Homo sapiens: one gene and its partner. The protein of the gene in region 1 interacts with the protein of each later gene in a pairwise test. Each region holds a gene or a part of one and is shown in the gene's direction. Other genes may lie near its edges. The genes, in order: TCF25 and NEK2.

The links.
Region 2: the proteins of TCF25 (region 1) and NEK2 interact in a two-hybrid assay, tested with the Homo sapiens proteins (one large-scale study listed by BioGRID and IntAct).

Annotation. Positions count from the first base shown.
Region 1 is NC_000016.10:89,876,499-89,880,321, forward strand, and holds part of TCF25 (ribosome quality control complex subunit TCF25), read left to right. Parts: intron 1-3,823. UniProt on the Homo sapiens protein: Component of the ribosome quality control complex (RQC), a ribosome-associated complex that mediates ubiquitination and extraction of incompletely synthesized nascent chains for proteasomal degradation.
Region 2 is NC_000001.11:211,662,082-211,665,754, reverse strand, and holds the end of NEK2 (serine/threonine-protein kinase Nek2), read left to right. Parts: intron 1-2,102; coding exon 2,103-2,329; 3' UTR 2,330-2,983; downstream 2,984-3,673. UniProt on the Homo sapiens protein: Protein kinase which is involved in the control of centrosome separation and bipolar spindle formation in mitotic cells and chromatin condensation in meiotic cells.

The DNA of each region.
Region 1 (3,823 bases):
AGAGATCCTTCCGCCTTGGCCTCCCAAAGTGCTGGAATTGCAGCTCCCAGTACTTTGGGAGGTGGGCAGATCACCTGAGGTCAGGAGTTCGAGAGCAGCCTGGCCAACATGGTGAAACCCCATCTCTACTAAGAATACAAAAATTGGGCCAGGCGTGGTGGCACATGCCTGTATTCCCAGCACTTTGGGAGGCCGACGTGGGCGGATCATGAGGTCAGGAGATCCAGACCATCCTGGCTAACACGGTGAAACCCCGCCTCTACTAAAGAAGTACAAAAAAATTAGCCGGGTGTGGCGGCGGGAGCCTATAGTCCCAGCTACTCAGGAGGCTGAGGCAGGAGAATGGCGTGAACCCAGGAGGCGGAGCTTGCAGTGAGCTGAGATCGTGCCACTGCACTCCAGCCTGGGCAACAGAGCGAGACTCCATCTAAAAAAAAAAAAAAAAAAAAAAAAATTGGCCAGGCATGGTGGTGGGTGCCTGTAATCCCAGCTACTTGGGAGGCTGAGGCAGGAGAATTGCTTGAACCCAGGAGGTGGAGGTTGCAATGAACTGAGATTGTGCCACCAGGCTCCAGCCCGGGCAATACAGCGAGACTCTGTCTCAAAAAAATAAATAAATAAATAAATAAATAAATCGTAATAATAATTATGGATTTGTCTATTTCTACTTTCAACCCTGTCAGTTTTTGCTGTGTGTGGGTGTGTGTGTGTTTTGGTTTTTTGGAGACAGAGTCTCGCTCTATTGCCCAGGCTGGAGTTCAATGTCACAATTATAACTCACTGTAATCTTGAACTCCTGGGCTCAAACCATCCTCCCACCTCAGCCTCCCAAGTAGGTGGAACTATAAGTGGGTGTCACCACACCTGGCTAATTTTTTCAATTTTTTTTGAAAGCCAGTGTGCTGGGATTATAGATGTGAGCTACCATGCCTGGCCTAGAATCTTTTCTGAACTGATTGGTAATGAAAATAGCAACCTATCAAAATTTGTGGGATGCAACTGAAACGATGATTAGAACTTTATCATCGTAAATTTTAAATTAGAAAAGTGTTTAAAAATCTAGAAATTTACCTGAAACTTCTACCTTAAACTAGAAAAAGAGCAAATTAAACTCAAAATGTGTCGAAGGAAGAAACTAATCAAAGAGGGGAATGCACAGAATAGAGTATGGACACGATGGAGAGAATCGGTGAGACCGAAACTTGGTTCTCTCAAAAGACGAGTTGGCAAAAACTCTAGATTGACTGATGGAGGGAAAAAGGGAAGGTCCAGGTACGTTACCATTTTCAGGGATGGGAGAGGAGTGTTCACAGGTACAGATGGTGCAGATAGTAACGGGCGATAAGGAACTTCTTGCTAATAAATTTTCCAGATTAGACAAATGGGCAAGTTCCTTTAAAGATAAAACTTATCTAAATTGACATGTGAAGAAATAAAAAAATCTGAGCCCTTTTATCTATTAAAGATACTGAATTTTTTAAAGTATAAAACATTCCAGGCTAGGGTTGGTGGCTGACACCTGTAATCCCATCACTTTGGGAGGTCAAGGCAGATCCATCACTTGAGCTCAGGTGTGTGAGACCAGCCTGGGCAATGTGGCAAAACCCCATCTCTACAAACAATACAAAAAAACTGTCCAAGTATAGTGGCACTCACCTGTGGTCACAGCTACTCGGGAGGCTGAGACGGGAGGATGGCTTGAACCCAGGAGGTCGAGGCTGCAGTGAGGTGAGATGACGCCACCGTACTCCAGCCTGGGTGACAAAGTGAGACCCTGTCTCAAAAAAAAAAAAAAGACAACCTCAGGCTGGGTGCGGTGGCTCATGCCGGTAATCCCAGCACTGTGGGAGGCCAAGGCGGGTGGACCACCTGAGGTCAGGAGTTCGAGACCAGCCTGGCCGACATGGTGAAACTCCGTCTCTATTAAAAATCACCATTTTTTTTTTTTTTTTTTTTTTTTAGGAAAAATGGACATTTTCCTCTCCCCCTAAAAAAAGATAAAACTCCTTCCTGGTTATTAACTGAAATGCTGATCGAGCTTTATCCTAAAGAAGATCAGTCGTGGACAAGAACCTTGTGAAATGTTCCCCATTTGAGACCCTAAAACTAATGAAAATCACAGCTTTTGGGTAGGTAATAAGGTGTTTTGTTTTGTTTTTTGAGACGGAGTCTTGCGCTGTCGCCCAGGCTGGAGTGCAGTGGCACCATCTCAGCTCACTGCAAGCTCTGCCTCCTGGATTCACTCCATTGTCCAGCCTCAGCCTCCTGAGTAGCTGGGACTACAGGCGCCCACCACCACGCCCGGCAAGTTTTTTTGTATTTTTAGTAGAGACGGGGTTTCACCGTGTTAGCGAGGATGGTCTTGATCTCCTGACCTCGCCATCTGCCCACCTCTGCCTCCCAAAGTGCTGGGATTACAGGCGTGAGCCACCGCGCCCAGCCAGTAATAAGGTTTGTCTGACGGTGATTGACAGCATTTTAGAGCTGATGCATGGCAGTAGAGATTGCAGCAAATCATGTGTCATCACCAAAACTTCACTGAAGAAGCAAAACTAGGCCTGTCACCCGTGCTGTCTGTGTACACAGATGGGCTTCAGAGCCTGTCACACGTGTTGTCCGTGTACACAGATGGGCTTCGGGGCCTGTCATACGTGCTGTTCGTGTACACAGACGGGCTCCTGGGCCTATCACCCGTGCTGTCCGTGTACACAGATGGGCTTCGGGGCCTGTCACACGTGTTGTCCGTGTGCACAGATGGGCTTCGGGGCCTGTCACACGTGTTGTCCGTGTACACAGACGGGCTTCAGAGCCTGTCACACGTGCTGTTCGTGTACACAGACGGGCTCCTGGGCCTGTCACACGTGCTGTCCGTGTACACAGATGGGCTTCGGAGCCTGTCACACGTGTTGTCCGTGTACACAGATGGGCTTCGGGGCCTGTCACACGTGTTGTCCGTGTACACAGATGGGCTTCGGGGCCTGTCACACGTGTTGTCCGTGTGCACAGATGGGCTTCGGGGCCTGTCACACGTGTTGTCCGTGTGCACAGATGGGCTTCGGGGCCTGTCACACGTGTTGTCCGTGTGCACAGATGGGCTTCGGGGCCTGTCACACGTGTTGTCCGTGTGCACAGATGGGCTTCGGGGCCTGTCACACGTGTTGTCCGTGTGCACAGATGGGCTTCGGGGCCTGTCACACGTGTTGTCCGTGTGCACAGATGGGCTTCGGGGCCTGTCACACGTGTTGTCCGTGTGCACAGATGGGCTTCGGGGCCTGTCACACGTGTTGTCCGTGTGCACAGATGGGCTTCGGGGCCTGTCACACGTGTTGTCCGTGTGCACAGATGGGCTTCGGGGCCTGTCACACGTGTTGTCCGTGTGCACAGATGGGCTTCGGAGCCTGTCACACGTGTTGTCCGTGTACACAGACAGGCTCCTGGGCCTATCATGTGTGCTGTCTTTGTAAACAGTCAGGATCCCAGGACTATCACGCGTGCTGTCCATGTACACAGGCAGGCTCCTGAGCCCATCACACGTGCTGTCCGTGTACACAGATGGGCTTCAGAGCCTGTCACACGTGTTGTCCATGTACACAGACAGGCTCCCGGGCCTATCATGTGTGCTGTCTGTGTACACAGGCAGGCTCCTGAGCCCATCACGCGTGCTGTCCGTGTACACAGGCTCCTTTCCATTGAAGTTCAGCTTGGCATAGAGCTTTTTATGAATTCGATTTGTCAAACACCTCAAAATAAGAATTTTTTTTCTTAGGAAGTCAGCATGAGTTAATAAAAGTAAATTGGGTGTTGGCCGGGCGCGGTGGCTCAC
Region 2 (3,673 bases), on another chromosome or scaffold:
TAAATGAAACAAGGATTATATGAAACTTTGGCTTCATCTCTGTTAAAATACCTTCTTTTTTCCCAATATTGCAGTCTACCATTTCAATATTATAAAAATATTTATTCTGGCTTTTCATAGATTCCACACTGTCATCCATAAAGACAAAATAGACTTAAATCATGATTAGGGTGATAAAATGAGGAGAAAATTTTACCTGGATGAATTTCATGCATCAAACCCATTGCAGAGAATTACTTAAGACCCTGTTGGGGATGGCTGTTCGGTTAAAGAGTTTATTTACATTTGCCCTGATAGTCTTTGAGCAAAAGATGAAAATAGCTAAGTAAGGATGATGTGTTTTACTTTATAGGATACACAGATAAGTATGGGAATCTACTTATATGTGAATCATGGCAAATATTTAAAATGAGCCATAGGAATCAAGTATCCACTGGGGCAAGCAGACATTTTAGGGTATTGAGTGCTGAAAGTAGTGAACACATCAGAGCTATAAGATAAGCATCATAGCAGTGGGGAGCGGGTACCATTCTGAACTCAGGACAGTTGGAAATATTCTCTCCCCATCCTTGGGCTATAAAATCCACACGTGAGGAAGCCATCACAAGTATATTGAAATCATCACAGCAAGCAGCAGTGTCTTTTTTAAAAGCTGTTCTTTTCGTATTTGATGAAATATTCATTCTTCTATTTAATGGAAGAATTTTAAAAATGTTTTTAAAACACTTTCTTTCTTATAAAACTGTCCCATTAAGAGCCAAGTGTGGTGACGCACCTATAGTCCCAGCTACTCTGGGGCTCAGGCAGGAAGATCACTTAAGCCGAGGCGTCCAAGGCTGTAGTGCACTACAGCTGCACCTGTGACTAGCCACTGCACTCCAGCCTGGAAAACATGGCAAGACCCCATCTCAGACAAAAACAAAAACAAAATAAAACTATCCCATTAGTAAGACAATGTTGACTTACAAATGTAAAGGTATTTGTGGTAATAAGAAGGTGGATAGAGTTGAAACAGTGGAGATAAGGTCTAAAAGCAATCCAGTTTGCTTTGAAGCAGAAGCGACGTATGAAGCGGGAAGTCACAGGACCCTTGGAAGGCAGTGCATCTGTGTGCCAGCCTTTCCTATTTCTTCTGCCTGGAGCACTCTTCATCCAGACAGCCCTGTGGCTTCTTACTTCAGAAATGCTGTATGAGGCTTTGTATCATTACACCCAGCACCCAGCACCCAGCATGTCCCTGTTTCCAGAGCTATTTTTCCTAATAGCACGTATTACCATCAAATATTCCCCACCAGTACTTGTTTGTTTGTGTTTGGTTTATCTCCTCCTACTAGAATAGGGCCTTTGTTTGGTTCACAGTGGCCCATCCTATGAGCTCAGTAAATATTCGAACATATTTCCTTTAACACAAAAAATAAAAGGATTCTAGAATCTGTAAGCCTCCAGCCCCCAGTAATTCTGTCAGCAGTTAATAGTGTTGCCACTTTAAGTAAATATGATTATTATTTATTTTTTCCATGTAAAGAATAGTTTACAGTTTTTACTACTCTTACTTGATTTACCTTTTCCACACTGAATTTGTTTAGATTTTTTGGAAACAGATTTCTCGTCCATTAAGATGCTTTGAACTAAGTGTTCTTGAACATTTAACCAAAACTGTAGGTGTTCTCTATTTAAAAAAAAAAAAAAAAACAAAGACAGAAAAAAACCTCTGCTTCTACACTTTTCTGTAGGTAAGGTGTTCTGCATAGAATGGCACTTATTTTCAAGGACAGAGATAAATAACATTGATTTCCAAAAGTTTTATGTTGTCCATAATACTCAGTGTGTTTAAGAGTAAAATTGATTGTTGGTTGTTAAGAGAATAAAACTTATGTTCCTTGAATTTTGGCACATTCCAATATTATTTTTTCAATGCTGTGGATTAAAAGGCTGATTTCTGCAAGTCCTACACCCCTAACCTCCTATCCCAGAGAAAATAAAACAGGCACCTAGATTTCAAATGTGAGCCATAAGAGCAAATACTTTTTGATAAGTATAAGTATGAAGGAGTTGAACTCTGTTCAAGTAACTCAGAGCCCTTTTTCTTTTTCCTTCTAAAGAACTTCTTAATCTTCCATCCTCAGTAATTAAGAAGAAAGTTCATTTCAGTGGGGAAAGTAAAGAGAACATCATGAGGAGTGAGAATTCTGAGAGTCAGCTCACATCTAAGTCCAAGTGCAAGGACCTGAAGAAAAGGCTTCACGCTGCCCAGCTGCGGGCTCAAGCCCTGTCAGATATTGAGAAAAATTACCAACTGAAAAGCAGACAGATCCTGGGCATGCGCTAGCCAGGTAGAGAGACACAGAGCTGTGTACAGGATGTAATATTACCAACCTTTAAAGACTGATATTCAAATGCTGTAGTGTTGAATACTTGGTTCCATGAGCCATGCCTTTCTGTATAGTACACATGATATTTCGGAATTGGTTTTACTGTTCTTCAGCAACTATTGTACAAAATGTTCACATTTAATTTTTCTTTCTTCTTTTAAGAACATATTATAAAAAGAATACTTTCTTGGTTGGGCTTTTAATCCTGTGTGTGATTACTAGTAGGAACATGAGATGTGACATTCTAAATCTTGGGAGAAAAAATAATGTTAGGAAAAAAATATTTATGCAGGAAGAGTAGCACTCACTGAATAGTTTTAAATGACTGAGTGGTATGCTTACAATTGTCATGTCTAGATTTAAATTTTAAGTCTGAGATTTTAAATGTTTTTGAGCTTAGAAAACCCAGTTAGATGCAATTTGGTCATTAATACCATGACATCTTGCTTATAAATATTCCATTGCTCTGTAGTTCAAATCTGTTAGCTTTGTGAAAATTCATCACTGTGATGTTTGTATTCTTTTTTTTTTTCTGTTTAACAGAATATGAGCTGTCTGTCATTTACCTACTTCTTTCCCACTAAATAAAAGAATTCTTCAGTTTCCCTGTAGTTATGTGTCTTGCATTTGTTGGTCTCTTAGTTGATGGGAGTTGTGTTTATGATTTGTAGGTCTTCATTGTAGGGTACAGAAGGAAACATGGATCTGATGCTCAAGGGAGTGGCATTCCAGTCCTAAACTGTATGGCGCTTTACCTCCCATCTCATTAATCCATGTATGTAAGCCAGTGGTCCTTAACAGGGTGATTTTGCTCCTCAAGAGACGTTTGGCAATGTCTGGGGGCATTTTTGATTGTCATGATTTGGGGTAGGGTGCTACTGGCTGCTAGTGGGTACAGGCCAGGGACACTGTAAACATTTTACAATGCACAGGACAGCTGCTGACAACAAAATGTCCATGGGTTTGGATCATAATCCTGAATGATACAATCTCAAATGCGAAAATCCTGAAAGACCAAAATCCCTAATGTCTTAAATCCCAAAAGATCAGAATCCCTAATGTGTGAACTTCCAAAATCACAATCCTGAAAGATTAAAATCCCAGATGTTAAAATCCTGAAAGCCGAATTTGAGGTTAGGGATTAGTGCCGTTTCAGCTGTATACAGGATAATTGCATCATGTTAGGCAGAACTATTACCTTGTTATTGTCTTCATTTGGAAATTAAGTATGGTTTAAGAGATGTGGATGGATATCGAGTTGATAAGGGGTGAACTTGTTGATTTATGTGTCAACTTGACTG